Linked DNA regions of Homo sapiens: region 2 is linked to region 1. Evidence: fine-mapped QTL for protein levels in blood plasma. Region 1 holds a variant in brackets. A gene starts in the other region. All regions are shown on their forward strands.

Evidence for each region. A credible set is the group of variants that fine-mapping cannot tell apart. PIP is the posterior inclusion probability: the model's chance that the variant is causal. Protein levels are from antibody-based Olink assays in UK Biobank. Linkage for the fine-mapping came from a reference panel and not from the study's own genotypes, which makes the PIPs less certain.
Region 2: BTC starts here. The variant in region 1 is the best candidate, but not a certain one, in a credible set for the plasma level of the BTC protein (UK Biobank, PIP 0.71).

The regions. Positions count from the first base shown.
Region 1 is chr9:97,854,289-97,865,326 of GRCh38, forward strand. It overlaps FOXE1 (forkhead box E1), which reads left to right. Exons shown (of 1, transcript NM_004473.4): 1 at 1-2,429. The coding sequence ends at 748. Among named protein-coding and RNA genes, the nearest start is that of FOXE1, 6.6 kb to the left of the region's middle. RefSeq lists an enhancer at 8,293-10,109. The variant C/G (reference allele first, on the strand shown) is at 4,432.
Region 2 is chr4:74,790,239-74,801,192 of GRCh38, forward strand. BTC (betacellulin) reads right to left here and starts at 4,285. Exons shown (of 6, transcript NM_001729.4): 1 at 4,024-4,285. The coding sequence starts at 4,087.

The DNA.
Region 1 (11,038 bases):
CTACTGGGCGCTTGACCCCAACGCGGAGGACATGTTCGAGAGCGGCAGCTTCCTGCGCCGCCGCAAGCGCTTCAAGCGCTCGGACCTCTCCACCTACCCGGCTTACATGCACGACGCGGCGGCTGCCGCAGCCGCCGCCGCCGCCGCCGCCGCCGCCGCCGCCATCTTCCCAGGCGCGGTGCCCGCCGCGCGCCCCCCCTACCCGGGCGCCGTCTATGCAGGCTACGCGCCGCCGTCGCTGGCCGCGCCGCCTCCAGTCTACTACCCCGCGGCGTCGCCCGGCCCTTGCCGCGTCTTCGGCCTGGTTCCTGAGCGGCCGCTCAGCCCAGAGCTGGGGCCCGCACCGTCGGGGCCCGGCGGCTCTTGCGCCTTTGCCTCCGCCGGCGCCCCCGCTACCACCACCGGCTACCAGCCCGCAGGCTGCACCGGGGCCCGGCCGGCCAACCCCTCCGCCTATGCGGCTGCCTACGCGGGCCCCGACGGCGCGTACCCGCAGGGCGCCGGCAGTGCGATCTTTGCCGCTGCTGGCCGCCTGGCGGGACCCGCTTCGCCCCCAGCGGGCGGCAGCAGTGGCGGCGTGGAGACCACGGTGGACTTCTACGGGCGCACGTCGCCCGGCCAGTTCGGAGCGCTGGGAGCCTGCTACAACCCTGGCGGGCAGCTCGGAGGGGCCAGTGCAGGCGCCTACCATGCTCGCCATGCTGCCGCTTATCCCGGTGGGATAGATCGGTTCGTGTCCGCCATGTGAGCCAGCGTAGGGACGAAAACTCATAGACACATCGGCTGTTCACACGTTCCCCGCAATCTGAGAACGAACAGGAATGGAGAGAGGACTCAACTGGGACCCACGTGGAAAAGACCGAGCAGGCCACAGAGGCTCGGTCTCCCCGCGCACAGCGTAGGCACCCGGTGTACTCTGTAAACGGGAGGAGGTGGGGCGAGGCAGCCAGAGCCCTTGGACTGGCACAGGGACCCTCGATGGAGCGAAGCCCTCAAACGGGATGCTTTCTGGTATTCTATCGGGGAGGGTCCTTGGCGGTAACCAGAGGGCAGCGTAGTGTCAACACCAGAGACCAGGATCCAAATTGTGGGGAATCAGTTTCAGCCTTCCATGTGCTGCCGGAACTCGGGCCTTTTTACGCGGTTCGTCCTCTAGTGCCTTTAACTGCGTTACTACAATAAAAGGCTGCGGCAGCGCCTTTCTTCTTAAAGTGAGGAGGACAAATTTGCAAAAGAAATAGGCTTTTCTTCTTTTTTAAATTGGAGAAATCTCTGCTCTGGTTGACCTGGGCTGGTTTTCCCTGTCTCTGAGAACTTGAGACCTAGCTCCGAGTTGAACTGTGCGTCAGCACTCCAGTCCCATCACCTGAACCTTCAGTCTCCCCCATCTGTTACACTAGAGGGCTGCAGGACTCTATCCACCGCCCCCGGGTTATCATTCAGGGCCCCATCATCTTGGATGCTGCCCTGCGTATTTGGCAGCAATGGTGGGCCACCCAGGGCCTCTGAGTAGCCACCCAAAGCCTAGCCGCTGTTCTAGGGAACGGAAAAGAGTTCATGGCCAAGCGTCTAACCTAAAGTCCCAGGATTGGCTCCAGGCAGCAATTATATCATAACTTATTGAACTTTTGAGCAGGACGTGCTGGTAATTTCATGGCTGTTACTGCCCAGTCATAAATCTGCTTTTCCATTATAAGGCAGAGAGAAGTACATTCGTTCATTTGTCCACTGTTTCTTGTCATCACGCAGCCCTGGACCCAAAGGGTGAACTAAAGTTTAAGGAGATGAGAGGATTCAAGGAGCCCGTTGGTGACGCCTTTCAGTAGCTGGGGAGGGCTCTTCCATCCCCAGCACCCCCTGCTACACCTCAGCAGCCTCCCCCATGCAAAAAGGAAAGAGAAAAATTAAGTTAGGGCAGTCAGTAAAGTGAGCTTTAGAAAGAAACTGGAATTTTAACTTCATTTTGTATCTTGCTTAAGTAGCAGGCTCACTAAAATTAGAGAAAGTCCAATAACTCTCCCCCTTTCCCTTGAGAAATCTTTAAGTTTCGATTCTGGAGCAAAAACTTTCAGCATTAAATATTTCAGAGGCTCCATTCACAGCTTTCAGATAAACTGGAGTGTTCAGATGGACTGTTTTAATAAAAATCTTTGAGCAAGTGAGTTATGGCAAGAGAAACTCAGCCTCTTTCTGTATAAACTTAACAGGGAAGGGCTGGGGTGTGAAAAAGAAGATTGTATGAAAACCATTGGTAATTTTTATTTTTTATTTTTGGGACTGCACTATCCTGTTCACGAAGACATGTGAACTTGGTTCAGTCCAAATGGGGATTTGTATAAACCAGTGCTCTCCATTAGAAATATGGTGCAAGCCACATATGTAATTTTAAATATTCTAGTAGCCACATTAATAAAGTAAAAAGAAACAGGTGAGGTTAATTTGAATGATATACTTAACCCAACATATCAAAAATATTATGATTTCAACATATAATCAATGTAAAAATTGAGATGTTTTGCTCTCCTTTTACATGAAGGGTTTACAATTTGGAGTGTGTTTTACACTTACAGCTTCTCTAAATGTGGACTAGTCACCTGCTAGGTGTTCAGTAGCAACACTGTGTTGTGCAGTGCAGGTCTAGGTGCTGGCCCTTCCTGGCTTTGGTGGTGGTACCTGGAAGCACTTGAGCGCTGACCCTGCCACCCGTCGGCCCAAATTCCAGACCCAGCCTTGTGACCTTGAAGAGTGCAGGTATTGGGCCGCCCTCCTCTCCCTAAGAATCTTTGCAGGTATGGAGTTCAAGGGTTCTCCTTCATTCAGCTAGACAAGCTGGCTGTCCCAGGTGCAGAGGTCAGGATGACTTGCCTGGTTGAGAAGAATGGGAAAGTAAGAGTTCTCCACCCAGGAGTTTTGTTCTGGGCTGCAGAAGAGCCCAGGCGTGGGACTGGGGCTGGAGAAGGCTGGTTTTTGCCCTTAGTGCCAGAGTTGAGGCTTTCTCTGTTTCCTAATGAGCAAGTCCAGTGCTTTGACAGCACCACTAATCTTAAGCCAGTCCCTTCTCCTCTCGGGTCGTCATTTGTGAAATGGGAATTTGTGACTGCTACCTCAGATAATTTTCCTGAAGTTAAACGAGAGGAGAGGTGAAAAGCGCTTTGTAAACTGCAAAGCGCAGAGCATAGCAGGGCTGAAAGGCTTTAAATAAGCGCTGCCTTGTAACAAAGCCTCCTGGAGTGTCATGATAAAGCCCCGGGAAGGAGAAAGACAGGGTGGGAAAGAGCGGACATTTTCGTCCCCCATTCTACTTGTCAACTTGCGGGACAGGTAAGATTGTGCCAAAGGCGAGGGTCAGCATCAGGAGAGAGAGGACGCTGCGGGGAGGGACCTGGTTGTGTGCTTCAGGTGCCCCAAGGGACACGGAGACGCGCGAGGGTTGGGATCAAGGCGTTGAAGACAGAGCGACAGCCCTTCTCGGCCTCCCACCGGCCGACGACACCAAGAGCTCGCGCACCGGCCGGGCCAGGTGGGAATGGGCGCCGCGCAGGGGAGCGAGTACCTCGGAGACAGTGCGCGCCGCCCGGGGCCTCATCCACAGCGGGGTCGCGGGCGGCCCCCTTAGCCCGCGTGACTGTGGGATCCTGAGAACATTCCGCTGTATGTCTTGGAACCTTCTAACCCTAGGAATTTGCAAACCCCTCCCAGTCCCTCATCTGGGGGCTCAGAGACTGGAGGTGCCTTTTTTATTTTTTTCTTCTTCACTTTATGAACACAGAAAAATCGTTTGTCCCTCTCCGGGCCCTGCACCCGCCAGCGTCGTGTGCAGGCGTCCCCGGGCTGTGGATAATTAGACACGTTCTTCCCTCATTGCCCAAGGCTCGTTAGAATTCGCCCTAGAGCTGTATCATGTATTTTCTTTCAAATTAACTTTGCTTGCAATTAAGCTTAGGGAACCAGCAACAAAAGCAAACTTGGCCCGAGGTCGTTCACCGCGAAAATGGATTAGAGAAACTTCTTCCCCGATTTAAGGGGAAAGATTCCTGCGGCCAGCGCTTTGGGGAAAGTGCCCCGACCGCAGAGGCGACGACAGGGGAGCAGGAAGCTGCTCACGGTAGTCGGCGTTGGCGGCAGCGGTGGCCTTCCTCATCTGGGCGATGTGGGCTCCTAGAAGAGTAAGGATAACATCCTGGAAATGACTTCTGTACGGTTTGAGCCCAACTGCACACTCATGACTTGGAGCTGCCCTGTGGAGTTACAGTTTACCAAACACATTCATGAACATAATCTCATTTACTAAAAACTTTGTGAGAATTTTCTTTTACTAAAATTTTTTCTTATTACAAAATCAGTAGTGTTCATTGTTTTAAAAGAAATAACAGGTAAGAAAAATAAAGAGGGAGGGAAATAACAGCAAAAAAAAAAAAAAAAAAAGGCTGG[C/G]GGGGGGGAACCCATAGTTGGCCCAGAGAATGCGCAGTTAACGCTTAAGTATATATCTTTTCTGGAGTTTGTTTTTGCTTTTGACTTTTCCCCTATACAGGAGGCCTGAGTCTTGACTTTGTCACTAAATTGCTGTGAGGTCTTGAACAAATTCCTTCTGGCATGGAGTGGGCCTGTTTCCCCACCTATAAAACTGGGTGCAGGTCCCCTTTTACCCTTTCACATTTTCTAATGCCTCTTCTTTTGGTCACTTGAATGCAAGATGCACTTCTGCAAGGGCCAGGAGCAAGGCCTGGGGGCAAAGGGAGGCAAGCCCTCCCTGTTGGTTTACACAAGAGATGGAGGTCGGCTGCAAGGACATTCCCTGGGAGCTTGCTAGAAATATTGGTTCTTTGGCCTCACCCCAGACCTCCTAGACCAGAACCTGCCTTTCTATAAGACCCTTAGGTGATTCCTATGCCCTGGTCAAAGAGAAAGAACTTTGAAAAAATGTGTTATTGAGATTAGAGATGCCAGAATAACTTCTAGAAGCCTCCTGTTTCTGGCCCGGAACCCCAGCTAGCACTCCAGCGCTGTCTTGTGGCTCTGACCACAGAGAGCAGAGAGGGCAGGGTGGCAAGGGGACAGAGATGGGGTGGAGTGCTTCATCTCCTCCTTTGAGTACTTTCTGAGTCTTGGAATCCTAGCCCTTAGACTGTACCTCATCTCCTGTTTCCAGCTGTATGGGTGACTGTGACAATGACATTCAACAAGAGTATATCTGAAAACATCTTGAAAGCTGGGGTGACAGAGCCAGGGCAGGAAGCCACGTCCTGATTTCGGGCTGAGGCACTGTAGGGACCTTGGGTTCAAGCTCTATACCCTCCCTTAGCAACAGTCAATTGCCTGAGTATAGAATAAACTTTGCCTCTGACCCCTCAGCTCTAGCCCCAAGTCTGAGGTAGTTGAGGGTTTAGGAGAAAAATTAAGCTTTCTGTTCAGGACACAATGGCCAACTGGAAGGGGTCCCTGTCTCCAAGTCAGTCTGGGCCAAAGGATCCTCTAGTAAAAGCCTAAGGTCCTCCTCAGTGCCCTAAGGAACCCTCCCCTGCCTTGAACACATACGAGCTTGACTTTCTGTGTGTGCTCAGCCTGTTCCTGAGGGTAGACATGACAAGATAGCTGGGGGAATATGTCCCTGATGAAAAACAGTTCAGACAGGGGCATGTACCATGAAGGATGGGGAAGGGGCCCAGATTGGGAAAGCATGTTCCCAGGATCACATTGCACCACATGGGGAGAACCAGGATTTTCATCTCATTGCTTGTATAAGTTCCCAATAGAAATAAATAGGAATATTGTGAGTGTGTGTGGAGCCTCCATAGAGCCATAGAAGGGGTGTGTGACTTGCCCAAGATATGACAGTTACAAGTGTCCAAGCTGGACTAGAACCTCTGCCTCCCCCAATGGAGACTGCATTTGATTATCATCTTAATGAAGGTAATATGGAAGTAAAAGTAATCTGGTGAGGATGTGAAGGTAGGGGCTAAGGAGTGGGGATGGACTGCAGCTTGAGGAATGGACTTACCTGTTAAATAAATAGCTTAGAACTACCTTGAGAGAAAGTAGTGTAGTTAGTGCTCCTCAGGCCAAACTAAGCAGTGAACAAAATTTTAAATGGGATGGACAGGCAGAGTAGGGGCGAGATGGAATGCCCTTAGTGAGTTCTGCTCTCCTGCCCCGGCCCTCTCTCCAGCATCTCCTCTCCCTGGCTGAGGCCAAAGCCAGCCTTTGCAGAGCCCCTGGCATGGTCCTCAATGCTTGGCCTCAAAAGAGGAATGCTGTCTGCTCCCTGTGGAGTTCCTGAACCCCTCTGCCAGCCCCACACTCCCTCTTCTGAGAACGGAAGCTCGGATTTCCAGCTCAGCCCAGAAGGGTTAACCAGGAAGCACCTAGTCAGACACCCAGGGAACAGCTGTCAGCCCCTCCCAGGGTGAGGAAGAGATTGGGAAGCCAGAATCAGGGTGGATCTCAGCCATGGGGCAGAGCACCAGTTTATCTCGCTATCTGAGAACCTGGAGCAGTTTCTCAAGTGGGGGTGGTCAGGGCAGAGCCCCAGTCATGGTTTCTCAGGCATGGAGGTGCTCTGCAACCAGGCAATAAATTGAGAGCCACCACCTCCCAGGACTCAACTCCCACCTCTGCTCACGGCCCCAGCAGCCAGCCAGGGCCTCCCAAGAGTACTCCTGCCTCCATTCTGTCCGTGCTGCCAGCTTGCCTCCCTGAAGCTGAGCTCCAGTCCTGTGGAGAAGGCTGCCTGCCGTCTGCAGTAGAACGCTTCAGTGCCTCACCTGGCACTTGGGACCCTCGGTCATCCTTATGTCAACCTTCTTGCCGGCCACGTCTCCCATAGCTGCCTTCCCACACCCCTAGGCTGCAGCCAACACACCATTTGCTGTTCCCTGACACTCCCATGTGTTCCTGTCATCATGAATTTGCCCTGACCATTCCCTCTCCAGGAACCACCTAACCCCATGCCACGCTTCCACAGCCGCCAGCCCTCCAGGACCCTGTCATCTCTCCCGGATCACAGTGCCAGCCCCTAACAGGACCCCCTGCTTCCTCCCCTGCTCCCTTGGCAGTTTTCCCTACAGCAGCCAATGTGTGACCCAGCTCAAAGCCCAGCCAGACCATGTCACTCTCTCACAGAGGCCCAGACCTCAGGAACAGGGAGTGCAATTAGGAACATGGCGTTTCCACGAGCAGTCCTGTGAAGGGTTTCTCACAGTATGAAGAAAACTACATTTAATATGAATGTTTTCAAAAATTTCCACTCCCACATCATAACACATTCTCTTTTTTTGAGATGGAGTTTCACTCTTGTTGCCCAGGCTGGAGTGCAATGGCGCAATCTCAGCTCACTGCAACCTCCGCCTCCCAGGTTCAAGCAATTCTCCTGCCTCAGCCTCCCGGGTAGCTGAGATTACAGGCATGCACCACTATGCCTGGCTAATTTTGTATTTTTAGCAGAGACGGGGTTTCTCTATGTTGAGGCTGGTCTCGAACTCCTGACATCAGGTGACCCGCCCACCTCAGCCTCCCAAAGTGCTGGGATTACAGGCGTGAGCCATCGCGCCCGGCCAACACATTCTTTTATCCCAAATTTTTATCAAAACCTCACACAACTATTCAACCTTGTGTGAAGTGGGGTCCGCCTTCATTTTCCCTGCACAGGTGCTCATAAAGAATGGTGTCCTCTCCTGGGGACTGTGCTCAGGGCTTTTGATGGCAGGGCCATGTTGAGGACAACTGTCCAGCAGGCAACTCCAGACAGGCATGAAACAATCCACCCTCTTTCTGCCATATAAATATCAGCTTATTTTGAGAAGAAAGTGTGCCAGACACTGCTAGTTGTCTACCCACCCATTTTCTTCACTTCTTGTTTGCTCGCAAGACCCTGATTTTGTTCAGGTTTCAGTTGGTTGTGTCTTATCCCTTGGCAGTGAATCTTGACTTGCATAAGGTAAGCGCAGTCACTATCCTATCACTCTTGTCAGAGATTGATTTGGAAACAGGTACAGGATACTTTCTGGGCCAATGAGATGTTCAGGAAAGTCTGCTGTGGACTTCTGGAACACATTCATTTGGTCTTAACAAAAAATAGGGGAGGGCATGGTGGTGTATGCCTGTAATCCCAGCTACTCAGGAGCCTGAGGCAGGAGAATCACCTGAACCCGGGAGGCAGAGGTTGCCGTAAGCCGAGATCGCACCACTGCACTCCAGCCTGGGTGACAGAGCCAGACTCTGTCTCAAAAACAACAATGACAATAACAACAACAACAACAAACAAATGTATCCTAACTGATACAGAAAGTGACCATGAAAGGGCAGGGGAAAACTGATTCTTGATGTATTCCCTTTGAGACTTCTCTTGGCTTCTTATAAATAAATGTGCAGCTAACAGACTATCTAGCCCTACCCCTTGTTTTATGGAAGAGAAGCCAGAGAAAGTAACTTTCCAAGGTAACAGTGAGTTATCATTGTAGACCCTAGTTCAGGGCCCTTCCACAGCTCCAGGGGCTCAGCAGGAACAAAACTAATAATAATCCCAACATTTTCCAAAAGCCACTTTGTTCAGGGAGTACCAGCCATTTTCACAGGTGTTATCTCTTTGGATCCTCACAGCTCCCCTGGGAAGCAGAAGGTTTCAAATGCACCCTTTTCAGGCAAGGAAACTAAGGTCCAAGAAAAGGGGTAATGAGCTCAAGTCATGTGACCGTTGCACACAGGAGGGACCAACCCTCAACCCGGGTGTAACAAATCCTCAGTAAAATGAACCAGAAATCTGAGGCTCCTTCCTCCCTGGATGTAGGAATCAGGAGGCTGGGAGAATCACCTGTTAGTGTTGACTGGCGCTTGGGAATCCTCTGGCTTCGAGCCTCTGAGTAGGGTGGATTCTCCATATGCCCCTGGCTTATCTCCATACGGCATGTAAGGCTTAAAGATAGTGTCTTTGAGTGTGTGGATCCAGTTGCTTCGGATCCAACAAAGTAGGATGGTTAGTGACCAAGCTGAAGGGAACTGGCGTTTGCTAAAAACAAGCCCTGCCGTTGTGGGACTCCTGTCACCCCACCCAGAACCCTCCCAGCTTCAGCCAGGGTTGGTTCCACCAAGGCGAAAGCTGCAGGAGCAGGCCTGTAGTTTACAGAACACCTGGGAGAGGCTGTGGGTAGCTGGGTAATTTCCAAATTAATTGCAGGAAAAAACTAACAAAACAATCTGCAGGCTAAGCATCCCGGGAGCTCACCCATGAGACTGACAGCCTGGAATCCAGCAAGTACAATGCCGCCGACCACAGACAGGAGGGCCTTTCCTCCTTTCGGGGAGGAGGGCTGACTTCCAACAAGGACCCGTCTGGGCCTGCAGCTGGGCCAAGAGGAAAGCAAAACTCTAGAACCAAAACAGCCTTTCCACCCAAAACCAAACTACAATAAACATAAGCAGCTTTCCCGGAACTGCAAGTTTGGCTAGACCAGAGAATGATCCCCTGATGGAAGGCTTGTTTTCTCAGCAAGGGAGTTTTGGGCCTCATTTTGAAAATTTCTTCCTAAATTCAGACTCAGGAAACTAAGGCTGCTCCCACTGCCCCCTGCAGACTACACACAGGCACGAAATGAGCCTTGAAGCCTCTGCTGTACTCTTTTTTGTTTGTTTGTTTGTTTGTTTTGAGATGGAGTCTCACACTGTGGTCCAGGCTGGAGTGCAGTGGCACGACCTAGGCTCACTGCAACCTACACCTTCTGAGTTCAAGCGATTCTCCTGTGTCAGCCTCCTAAGTAGCTGGGATTACAGGCGCCCACCATTACACCCAGCTAATTTTTGTATTTTTAGTAGAGATGGGGTTTTGCCATGTTGGCCAGGCTGATCTCGAACTCCTGACCTCAGGTGATCTGCCCACCTCAGCCTCTCAAAGTGCTGGGATTACAGGCGTGAGCCACGGCCTGCTGTACTCTTCATAACCGTCAAATCTTACCTTTGTTGATACTTTGCAGCTTCCCAAGAGGCTGTCTGCCTTCGTGAGAAAAGCACTGGTTTAAGTCCTGGCTTTGATACCTGAGAAGTCTTAGTGCCCCCGAAAATCCCCTACGGAGGTAGTGACTATGAACTAGAAAACAGTGGGAGCATAGTTGAAGCCAGGCAGTCTGGGTCCAGAGCTTCTTAGTAGGTGCATGCCACTGTGCCCAGCTCTATGTTTAATCTTTTGAGAAACCACCAAACTTTCCCATAGTTACTGCACCATTTTGCATTCCCACCAGCAATGCATGAGGATTCCAGTTTCTCCACATTCTTACCAGCACTTGTTATTTTCTGGGGTTTTGTTTGTTTGTTTCTGTTTTCTTATAATCATCCTGGTAAGTGTGCAGAGGTATCTCATTGTGGTTATGATTTGCATTTCCCTAGTGACTAATAATGTTGAGCATTTTTTCATGTGCTTAGGGGCCATTTGTATATTTTCTTTGGAAAAATGTCTATTCGAGTCCTTTGCCCATTTTTGAATTAAGTTGTTTTATTGTTACTGAGTTTTAGATGTTCTTTATGTATTTTGAATATTAATTCCTTATCAGGTATATGCTTTACAAATATTTTCTCTCATTTACTAGGTCATCTTTTTCACTTTTTGATAGTATTCTTTGATGCACAGAAGTTCTTAACCTTGATAAAGTTCAATTTTTCTTTTTTGTTTGTTTTCTACTCTTTTACTGTTATACCCATGAAGTCATTGTCAAATCCAATGTCATGAAGATTTTCCCAAATTTTTCATCTAAAAGTCGTATAGCTTTAGCTCTTCAGTTTAGGTCTTTGATTCATTTTGAGTTCTTTTTTGTATATGGTGTAAAGGACCAAGTTCATTCTTCTGCATGATATATCTGTTTGTCTCAACACCATTTACTGAAAACATTGTCCTTTCCTTTATGGCATCCTTGAACAAATCAATTAACTGTATACATGAGGGTTTATTTCTGGGATCTTTGTCCTATTTTATTGGTGTATATGTCTGTCCTTATGCCAGTACTGTTTTTCTGTTTTTTGTTTTTTTTCCTTTTCTTACAGACAGGGTCTTGCTCTA
Region 2 (10,954 bases), not on the chromosome of region 1:
TGATTTGTCCTGTGCTTTCCTACTGTCTATTATAATAACTCATGCTTATTCTATGTTTGGGGCACATTTTGAGTGGCTTTACATAGTATTGCATTTAATTCACGTAATTGCATTGGTCCTATTACTATTAGCTTTTACAGGTGAGTAAACTGGGCCAAGGAGGTTTAAGAGACTTGCCCGAAGTTTCAGAGCTAGCAAGTCACAGCACCAGGAGGCCATGCCCCAAAGGTCTGGTTCAGAGTTTACAGGCTTGACCACTACATGACCCTGCCTCAAGATATGCTCTTTTTACCCATTTTCAGTAATTGCCATGTGGGTTCTATCAGGGAGACTATGAAGCGATGTCACCCCTTCTCCATCTGCCCAAAGGAGCATCCTCTAGGTGTTGGTGCACTAAGCAGACTGGAGAATATACAGGAGTCACCCACAAATTCAAGGATAGAGTCAGACTAGAATAGAATCAGAATAGACACTGAGTGACACAGGCCAGACACAGTCCAAAATAAAGCACCTGGTCTGACCAATACCAACTGAACATTATTAGTCAGGCTAGCCTGGCCCTGAGCTAGGAGAAGCAGGGTTTCCTGGAAGCAAGGAAGAGCCAGGAGTCCAAGAATCTGTCAGAGAATAGCCAGAGCCAGGGATGGCACAGATGTATGGGTAGGCAGTAGGGAAAGCAAAGGTGTAGGAGACAGCTAGGATGAGCTTACATGCTTTTTAAATAAGTCAAAAGAAATGGTTTCCAGTATTGGTTTTTCCTGTTATATGCAACGCAACGTCTCTGCACTGGAGTGTCCTATCTCTCCCTAGACAGGACATTCTGCACTTGAATGTCCTATCTCTCCCTACCTAATTCAGCAACAAATATTTATCTGCTACGATCTCTTGAGACCAGGAGTTTAAGACCAGCCTGGCCAACATGCCAAAACCCCGTCTCTTCAAAAAATACAATAATTAGCTGGGCGTGGTGGCGAGTGCCTGTTGTCCCAGCTACTCGAGAGGCTGAGACAGGAGAGTCACTTGAGCCCTGGAGGCGGAGGTTGCAGTGAGCTGAGATCATGCCACTGTAACTGAGCCTGAGCGAAAGAGTGAGACTGTCTCAAAAAAAGAAAAAAGAAAAAGAAAAAGAAAAAGAAAATACAGTAGAGAAATACGAGCCCATTTTGGAAAATCTCATTTTTTGAGAAAGTAAGATTAAATGGCTCAGGATTTCTACTGACTTAGAAAATGCCTTTAAACAGTTTTAGAAAATTAAACCAAATTAATGCATATAAAGAATATCGATAACACATAAACGTGTAATTTATATTTATATTAAATGTATTTGTACCATATAATCTGCTTATGGTATACCTTCTTTTTATATCTCCAACCCCACTTCTGTCTTTATAAAATTTCTCAAAGAAAGTAGTACCTAATTTGCATATGTTAGAATGGAAATTATCCTGTAAAGATGCATCTACTAAATGCCAGATGTATTTAAGGAGCATCTACATTTGTAATAGACATAAGCCATTTCTAATTTAAATCACATGTTATTTTGTTTACTTTTTGAAAAGAATGTGACATGGAAAGGGCATCACCATCTAATGAAACCTCTTCATTTTACAAATTAGAAAAACAATGCCCAGAAAGTTGTAACTTACAGACATCTCGGAGTCATGAAGTGGTAGAGCTGGAACCAGGGCTCATGTCTGCTCAATGCCCACTCTCATCGCATTTCCACCATCTCACACACACACACACACACACACACACACACACACACAAACACTAGTGTCTCATGCATCTTATTGCTCACATTCTTTTCAAAAAGTAAATAGAACAACATGTGACATAATTTAGGAAGGGGACTTAAAAGTAAAGTGTGTATGACAGAAATAGGGCCACTTAATGGAAACAGCGATGCCAACAAATTACGTTCCTTAGCATTTTGCAAGAAATAGAGCTTTAAGGGGATCTAGAGACCAAATTCAATTTCCCAAGCCAATCATTTAACAGGGCGGTTGTACATTTAGGTTACCCTGAGTGTACAATAGCACTGGATTCGAGTTTTGCTTTTTGATTTTCATTTCTGTCTTTTGACAAGTTTTGTGATAGTAAAGGGGAAAGAATGTCCATCGACTTTCAATAGTCATTTCTACTATGACACCTCTGCTAAAACATCACCCTAATTTAGGCCCCAAGTAGCTCATGCCCAGATTATACCTACGAGACAATCAGGTCCTCTGGCCCACAGGCGCCCCCCCTTCCTATACTGCACCTCACTGACAGATTTATCACCTTTAAACCATTGTTTGCATCATATCACTCCCAGTCAAGCCCTGTGATGGTGTGTGTTTAATAGCTTATTGATTCTGTTCCAAATATTCTAATCTGGCTTTTTCAGTTCTTCATAATCTGTCTGCCTCTCAGAAATTCTACTCTTTCCAGTAAAGCATGCTCATTCGCATCGCCAACCCTTTACTAAATGCTTTTTCCCTTGTCTCTGTTCCCTCTTTCCTCTCTACTATTGCAAACTCTACCCAAGCCTCAAGGCACGCATTCGTGTCCTCCATTCAGCCTTTCCCCACTATTCCAGCCCCCGCTGTTGAGCTCTTTCTCCCTTTTCTGATTCCGTGAATTTTTCCACAGGTTACCCTGCTGGGCTTGCATATCCAAATTCAGTGCAAGTTCTAGGGCAGGAATCATGTTTTATTTTAGGAATCTCATGAGCCCTTTCCCCACCTCCATTGCTACATACCTCAGCACCTTGCTGACTACGACAGATTCTCAGGGAATACTTTGACTGTTGGATAGTTTAGACACGGTGGAGGAAGAGAATGTCAGCTACTTGCAAGCAATGCTGGCAAAAGCATCAGTACTATTTCTAGGGTTAAGTCTCAACCCCATTGCTCTTCTTCATGAATGTACACATTCACTCTACCACTAAATTGTTACTGACTCCTTCCTCTTCAGCGTTTGTTAAATAAGTTTATTTTCTCTAACCTTGGTCCTAAGTCTGATCCACCTCCAAGCAAGTTCACTGTACCTTTTTAGCCACCTCTCTTACTCCAAGGACACAGTCAAATGAAAGTTTTCATTTAGGCTCCCCCTCTCTTTCCTCAATAAGAGGAATTCCCATTCTTTTTCATTTGTGGTGTCCCCTTCCCAGGCTTGAAGGTAGGAGTGATATCGTGGTGACACTTCAGCTGTGGAGACTCTCCTCCTACCACATAAATGCTCCAAACCCAGATGTGTCTACAGCCCAGCTAAGATTAGAAAATGTTACTGGTTTCCCTTCCCTTCTCTGCCCCGCAAAATGACCATGATGCAGAGAGCAAGCTTTGAAGAGTTGGGATTTTTTCCTACTTAGAAGCCTTCTCACTACCTTCCCTCGGTGGAGGGGAAGGGGAAGCCTGCTTCCAGCCACATCTGAAGTTCCAGCTCTGCTTTGTGAGTTCTGACTCCTAAGGAGGCAGGAGAGACCCTCTGGAGGGCTCTAGGCATCCTGCTACTCCTCCTCCCGCTGGCACTCTTCCCTAACGCCAGGTGATCACACCTTCAGTCAAAGAGTTCCCGTTCTTCTGCCTCCTGCAGGATATGCTTCTTGGTCTATACTACCACGTGAGCTTCTTTAGTGGGTTTCCCTGCTCGCCCCTGCCCCCACCCCCCGACCCTCACTTGCGAGCACAGCGCCTCACCCCGGTGGACAGCCCGCCGGCGCCGCCAGGCCCTCTGCTGTGCGCACAAGTCAGCAGCTGGCGGCCTGCTCGCAGCACTGGCAGCGAGGACCTCGGAATCGCTTCCGCCCTCGGGCCTTCTCACGCGTCTAGGGACTGCCTCCAGCAGGTGCAGCCCCAGGTGCCCAATTGCCAGATCTTTAACCTCGCGCTCTCCCAGCCTTCAAAGTTCTCCAACCCGCGCCTGCCAGCCCCAGCGCGCCCTCTTGTCCAGATGCCAGCTCGGTTCAGGGTTCGCCCTCCCCGCGACTCCAGCCCCAGACTTTCCTCCTGGTTTCCAGTGCCCAGCACGGCCACTTACCCAGGGCAAGGGCCAGGAGCAGTGGCAGGGAGCTGGCGCCGCTGCACCGGGCGGCCCGGTCCATCAACCCCGCTCTGCCGGGCCGGGCAGCCCCTAGACAAGTCTCCCTCCTTCTTCGCCCCCTTCCCGGGCCTCGGGCGCCTGAGAGGGTGCCTGGAAACTAATCCCGGAGGCAGAAGGAAACGAAACTACTTCCCAGGCTGGCACCCTGGCTACAAGGCAGGGAAACACCCAGGGCGGGAGGCCGGCCGGCTCCGTGAATGTCGCCGGGAGGAGGGAGCCTCCTATTTATCCCCCCTCCTCCTGCACACACCCCGCCAAAGAGGCGCAGGACTTGGTCCTGGGAGCCTCCACGCTGCTCCCACCCAAATTGCCCCACACCCATACCCACACCCAGGGACATATTCGGGCTGCCCTCGGACCAGCTCACCACTCCCCCTGCTGGGTCTCACCTGACTGACTGTTCATTTCCCTACCCCCTAGGGCGTAAACAAGGTAGGGAGGGAGATGTAAAGAATCCGCGTGGAGGGGTGTCGGGGGTTCCGGTCGGGCCTGCAGGCTGACCTAAACTCCTGGAAGCCACCGAGGAAGAGTCAGAGACCCAAACGTGTTCTGGAATTCTAACTTCCTTTATTTCAGAGGATTGCTAGTGTCATGGAGAAACCAGACTCACCATTCATTGTGGTTGACTTCAGGCATTTGATAATGCAGGCAATTTCAAAAGAGTCATTGTTGCCTTTTAAAGTCTTGAAGCCATAGCGAAACCTCGTCTCTACAAAAAATACAAAAGTAAATTAATAGCCGGGTATGGTGGTGTGCACCTGCAGTCCCATCCATTCCCTGAGGCTGAGGTGGGGAGGATCGCTTAAGCTTGGGAGATGGAGCCTTCAATGAGCCTAGATCGAGCCACTTCACTCCAGCCAAGGCGCAAGAGTGAGACACTGTTTCAAAACAACGACAACAACAACAACAACATCAGCAACAAAAAAAAAAAAAAAAAAAAAGAAAAGAAATGAAAAAAGTCTTCAAGCTAGTGTCTTAGTTTCTGGGTGCATTGTCTTCTAATAATTCATAAAATTGGGGCTCACCAGGACCTACTTTAGAAATTTCATTTGTATTTCTGTTTATGAATTTACTCATGTATTCAGTATATTTTCATTTACTTGCATTAAGCAATTTCTGGAACAGAAAGACATCCTCACAGCTTTTAGAGAAAGCAAGCAGCATCCAATTTTACCTTATGTGGTTATATATTGCCTCCAAGATAACCAAAAGATACAGCTGCTTTTGTACTGGTCTGTGTTCCTCATATAAGATTTATGTGGATAATTATGCCCCTCAGTACAGAAATTTTATTTCTATAGCATCCAAAAGTCATGTAAGCCTTATTTTACATATGAAATGTAGTTTGGGTGTCTGCCTCTTCCTCCTCATCCTACTGTTTAAGTTAAGTAAATTGTTGTGCACTTGTCTCCCACGAATAACATTTCATTTCAAAACTAAATTATTTTACTGCCCCAGGCAACTGATATATCCGGTGGAATAAAAATCAGCTCTTAATTTTCAGAATCCCATTCTAGTCCCACATGACAGCTCATAAAACATTGGTAGAGAGGGCAGGCATGAAGTTTAAAGAAACCCAAAGTTGTAAGATGGAAGGTTACTGCACCCCAGCTAAAAAGAGCAGAAACACTGGAAGCCAATGGATTTTGACATCATCTCCCTCCCTCTCAACACTTCCACCCTGCATTTTTCTTTTCTGATATTCTCTCCATCTCTCAGCACCAGTGCCCTAAGTTAAAGTATCTCTTACTCCAAGATGGCATTTAGCCTAGCCAACAGCTGTCCTGTTAGCCCCAACAGAATGCTACAATTTTGTTTTCCTTTTTCGTAGATACTAATAAAAAAAAAAAAAAGCGAGACCTAAACAAAAAGTACTAAATGTTTGTTGAGCATTGGAAAATTCCAGGACTTGGTGTAAGTATTCATCATTTATGCCATTCAAGTGGTAAATTAACTTTTTCAGGCCACTAGAATATGAAGTAGTATAATTTAATATACTAAATAGGACAGATAAATTAATAACCTTCCTTGAGGGCTTTATTTACCACCATAAATAAAATAAGTACTCCCAAGAAAATCCAAATTTTCTGACACTGGATATCCAATCTCTTCAATGTTAAGAGACTTTTCCTGTCTTTTTTTGTTTGTTTCTTTTTTTTCCCCTCACTTTCTTTCTCTCTGTTCTTCCTCCTCTTCTTCCCTCTCCTTCTCCTTCTTCTTTTTCTCCCCCAGCCCCCAACCACCTCTCTCTCTCAAGTCATTTGCTTATGGGGCATGGTAAAGCTGGAATACAACCATTACATTTGGAAGAGTGGAAGGTAAGAATTGATTTTCCTGAGTCCTCAAACATGTAACTGAGTTGCGTCTCAGTGCTTTCATTTGCAAGCTGAGCTGTTACTAAGAGAAAAATAAACCAAAGTTACACCAGAGTCACAAGGTGAAACTTGTATTCCTAGTTAACCCCAAGGTAGGAATTGCTTGAGTGCTGTTCTTCCTGTGCCAGGTTTAGGCAGGTATAACCAGTCCTCCCAAATCTGGTATGAGGCTTAAGTAGATTCCTTTGGAGGGCCTTTAAGCATCAGCCTTTTTCTCTTCCCACACAGAACAGCCTGCAGCTGGGACCGTCCTCCCCGTCTTCTGGACAGGACAAAATAAACTTGTAGTTACATATAGGGCACAACACATAAACAGACACACGCCATGATGGAAAGGAAAATTTTGGAATGCATTCCTTCTAGGCCAACATGTATTCTCCAAATGAAGGCTTTAAGGCATTCAGTAGTATAGGAAAATTTCCTAATGACCATTAACTTTATTTAATAAGAGTGGGTGAATGAAAATGATGAAAGGCATTTTTAAAATTGTAATTTTTATAGTAATGATAAGCATCATGCATTGTAGATTATTAGTGGTACAGTTACATAGAGAGAACTTTCAAATATTTTATTTAAAACTACTGAATTGGTTTCTAAGAATGTATCAGTGAAAAATCACTGCTCAAAAGTTGTATTCAGGTAATTGTATTTTATAATCTAGTTGTTCTGAGGGAGGTAGTTATTTTTTTTCCTGCCTACTTTCTTGTATCTTCCTCTTCAGTCTAGGGGATCCACTTTTTATATGTATTTCTCAATGTGTTTGATTTGTATCTCTTTTATTTTTATTTATTTTGTTTTTTGAGACAAAATCTTGCTCTTGTCCCCCAGGCTGGAGTGCAATGGCGTGATCTCTGCTCACTGCAACCTCTGCCTCCGGGTTCAAGCAATTCTCCTGTCTCAGCCTCCCAAGTAGCTGGGGATTGCTGGCACCTGCCACCACACCCAGCTAATTTTTTGTGGTTTTTTTTTAGTAGAGATGGGGTTTCACCATGTTGGCTAGACTGGTCTCGAACTCCTGACCTCAGGAGATCCACCTCGGCCTCCCAAAGTGCTGGGATTACAGGCGTGAGCAACCACGCCCGGCTGACTTGCTATCTCTTTTAAATGGCAGCTTAACATATGTTATTAAACCTCAAAAATAATTGTCTCTGTGACATTATACCTGTTAGTTTCAGTTCACCATGATGATCTTTTTCTTTGGCCATATTGAAACATACTTCAAAAAGTAACTTCTGATTTTAAAAAATCTGGGCTTTTGTGCTGGCCCTAGTTGTAGGCTAAGTGAGAAAGCACCTATGTGGCCCTAGACATCTCTTCCTAAAGTCCTTGCCACAGTGGCTTCATCTCTTCCTACTTGGTCCCAGACTTCCAGCAAGGTAGACACTCCTCTAGGTGGGACAACAGAGCTGGAATATTATGTACAATTGGTTTTGGAATCTGTTCAGTCTGTTCAATTTGGATCTGTGTCACCCAATGACTGAACCACAAACTACTTACCTCTCTGAACCTCAGTTTCCTCATTGATAAAATGTGATGGTAATGACTTGCACAGTTTTTATGATTCCCAATAATACATATCTTCAAGGAAAAAATCTGGTGTATTAGAAACTGTTCAGTGAATTATAGTTGATAGTAGTAGGAGTAGGAGTACTAGTAGTAGTAGTATTGGTAGAGATGGGTGTCTCACTATGTGACTAGTCTCGAACTCCTGGCCTCAAGTAATCTTTCCTCCTCAGCCTCCCAAAATGCTAGTATTACAAGCATGAGCCACCATGTTCCACTGATAGTTGTTATGTCATTATAAAATTTTACATGGTACATAGAGAGAACCAGTAGGAAAAGGCATCCTTACTAACCCTCTCTTACTAATAGTTGAAGTAGAGAAAGAAAGGCACAGAGCAAGGCTCTGCTGGGAAAGTAACACTGAGCTAAAATTCCATGGATTTGGGTACAATTTTGCCTCTTCATATGCCCTTACACCTCCCTTACACCTCTCTGACCACCTTCTCCATCCTTTTTATTTCTCCTTCCTCCTTCAACTCTCTTTAGAGACCAAGATAGCACGTAACCCAGGATACAAAAACGTGTTGAATATAAACAAAGTACTGTGATTTGAAGATTTAAATAAATGAGCTACCTAGTTTCCCAGAATGCAAAGAAATAAATTCAAAAATTAACTCAAAAAATGAATGTTTGTTGTTGTTGTTGTTGTTGTTGTTGTTTTTGAGACAGAGGAGTCTCACTCTGTTGCTCAGGCTGGAGTGCAATGGCGCAATCTTGGCTCACTGCAAACTCTGCCTCCCGGGTTCAAGTGATTCTCCTGCCTCAGTCTCCCAAGTAACTGGGATTGCAGACATGCATCACCACGCCAAGCTAATTTTTGTATTTTTAGTAGATACGGGGTCTCCCCATGTTGGCCATGCTGTTCTTGAACTCTCGACCTCAGGTGATCCACCCAGCTCGGCCTCCCAAAGTGCTGAGATTACAGGTGTGAGCCACCGCACCCAGCCAAATAATGAATGCTTAATGAGTTTACAACAAACTAACACAGCTTTACGTGGTCATTTTCCCTCCTTCCCCCAACTTCTTGGTAAGGAGAAATGGTGACAGGAAAGAGTAAGAAATGAGAAGCAGCAAAGCTGGAGAAGAGAGGGAGGATGAGCTTAAAATAATTCTTCAAAAAATCTTTCATAGATGCAGAATGATATGTTAAAGGAGTTAAAAAAAAGGTGAAATCTACCTCTTGTATCATCTTCGTTTCTCATCCTTCCTTTGTTTTAAGGTGACATCAATATACATGTTATTAACCTCAAAATAATTTAATGGTCCTTATGATTCCCCCAAACAATTCAGTTATATCTTTAGTCTAACAATCCTTGGAATTTAAGATTTTTTCAGAGATAACTACATGTCTTCCTTTAATGATACATTTAAATTGCTTTTATATTTCTCATAGTGTAATTTTTTCGGAAATATTTCTTTAGCCCTATAATATATACCTGCCATCTGTCCATAAATACAGTATTTTTAAAACGCTAAAACTAATGTAAACTCTTCAGAAATGACTTAGCAGAAAATATGATATCATGCTTACAAAATATTCTGAAGTTACTGTCCTTTGTCTTTAAGGTATATTGAAAGTTCTTATTATTGTCCCTATGAATCTCTGTAAGATACTTTTAATAATTTTGTCCCCAGCATTACCACCTAATAATGGTCCACATAACTAGTTAGTTTTGAGATCCAAGGAGTATAATCCACAAATGCAAACAAGTTTAAACCTTAGAAAATAAAACCAGCATTACTCTCTAAATTTACTATGTTTAGGCTTTTGGGAGATAAGAAAAACTAGTATCCGTTTAATTTAATAAGAATTAATTATCTACATTTGTACAATACTTTCCCATATATTAACGATTTGAATTTAAAGTAGCTGCTGAGATAGGCAGGCAGTATTATTATTCTCATCTTAATGAGAGGAAATAGATGTCTGCATAGTCAAGTGATTGGTCCAACTTTCAAAGTAACTCCTAGAATCAAGGTCTAAAGGCAGTAAGGCTCAAGCTATCATAACGAAATGCCATAGACTGGGTGGCATAAACAACAAAAATTTATCTTCTCACAGTTCTAGAAGCTAGGAAGTATGAGATCCGGTGATTCAGTCCTAGTGAGGTCTCTTTTCCTGGCTTGCAGATGGCCACCTTCTCACTGTGAGCTCACATGGCCTTTTTTCATCATGTTCACATGAAGAGAGATAGGGAGATCTCGCTTTTTCTCTTCTTATGAGGCCACCAATCCTATCAGGTTGGGACTCCATTATTATGACGTCATTTAACCTTAATTACCTCCTAAAAATCCTATATCCAAGTCACCCTGGGGGTTAGGGCTTCAATGTATAAATTTTGAGGGAATACAAACATTCAGTTCATAACATAGAGTTGGGTTTGGGAATTAGACAGGCTTAGCTCTGCCACTTTTTTCTTTTTAATAAAGCTTTTTATGTTTAAAACGTTTAGATTCAAAGAGAAATTCAAAAATGTTACAGAGAGTTTCTGTACATCTTGCATGTAGTTTCTCCTATTGTTAATAGCTTACCTTAGTAAGGTTCATTTGTTGAAACTAAGGAACAAACATTAGTGCATTGCTATTAACTAAAGTCCATATTTTACTTACATTTTCTTTGTTTTTGTCTAATTTTTTTTTTTATGTTCCAGTGTCCCATCCTGGATACCACATTACCTTTAGTCGTCATTTGTCCTAAGGATCCTTTTGGCTGTGACAGTTTTTCAGACTTTGCTTTTGCTGGCCTTGAAAGTTTCAAAGAGTACTCATCAGGTATGTCATAGCATGTTCTACAATTGTGTCTTTTCTGAGGTTTTTCTCATGGTTAGGTTTTTCTGGTTTGGTGGAAGAAGACCACAATGATAAAATATCATTTCTACTGATTTTATGAAGGGTGAATAATGTCAACATGATAACTATTCTTGATATTG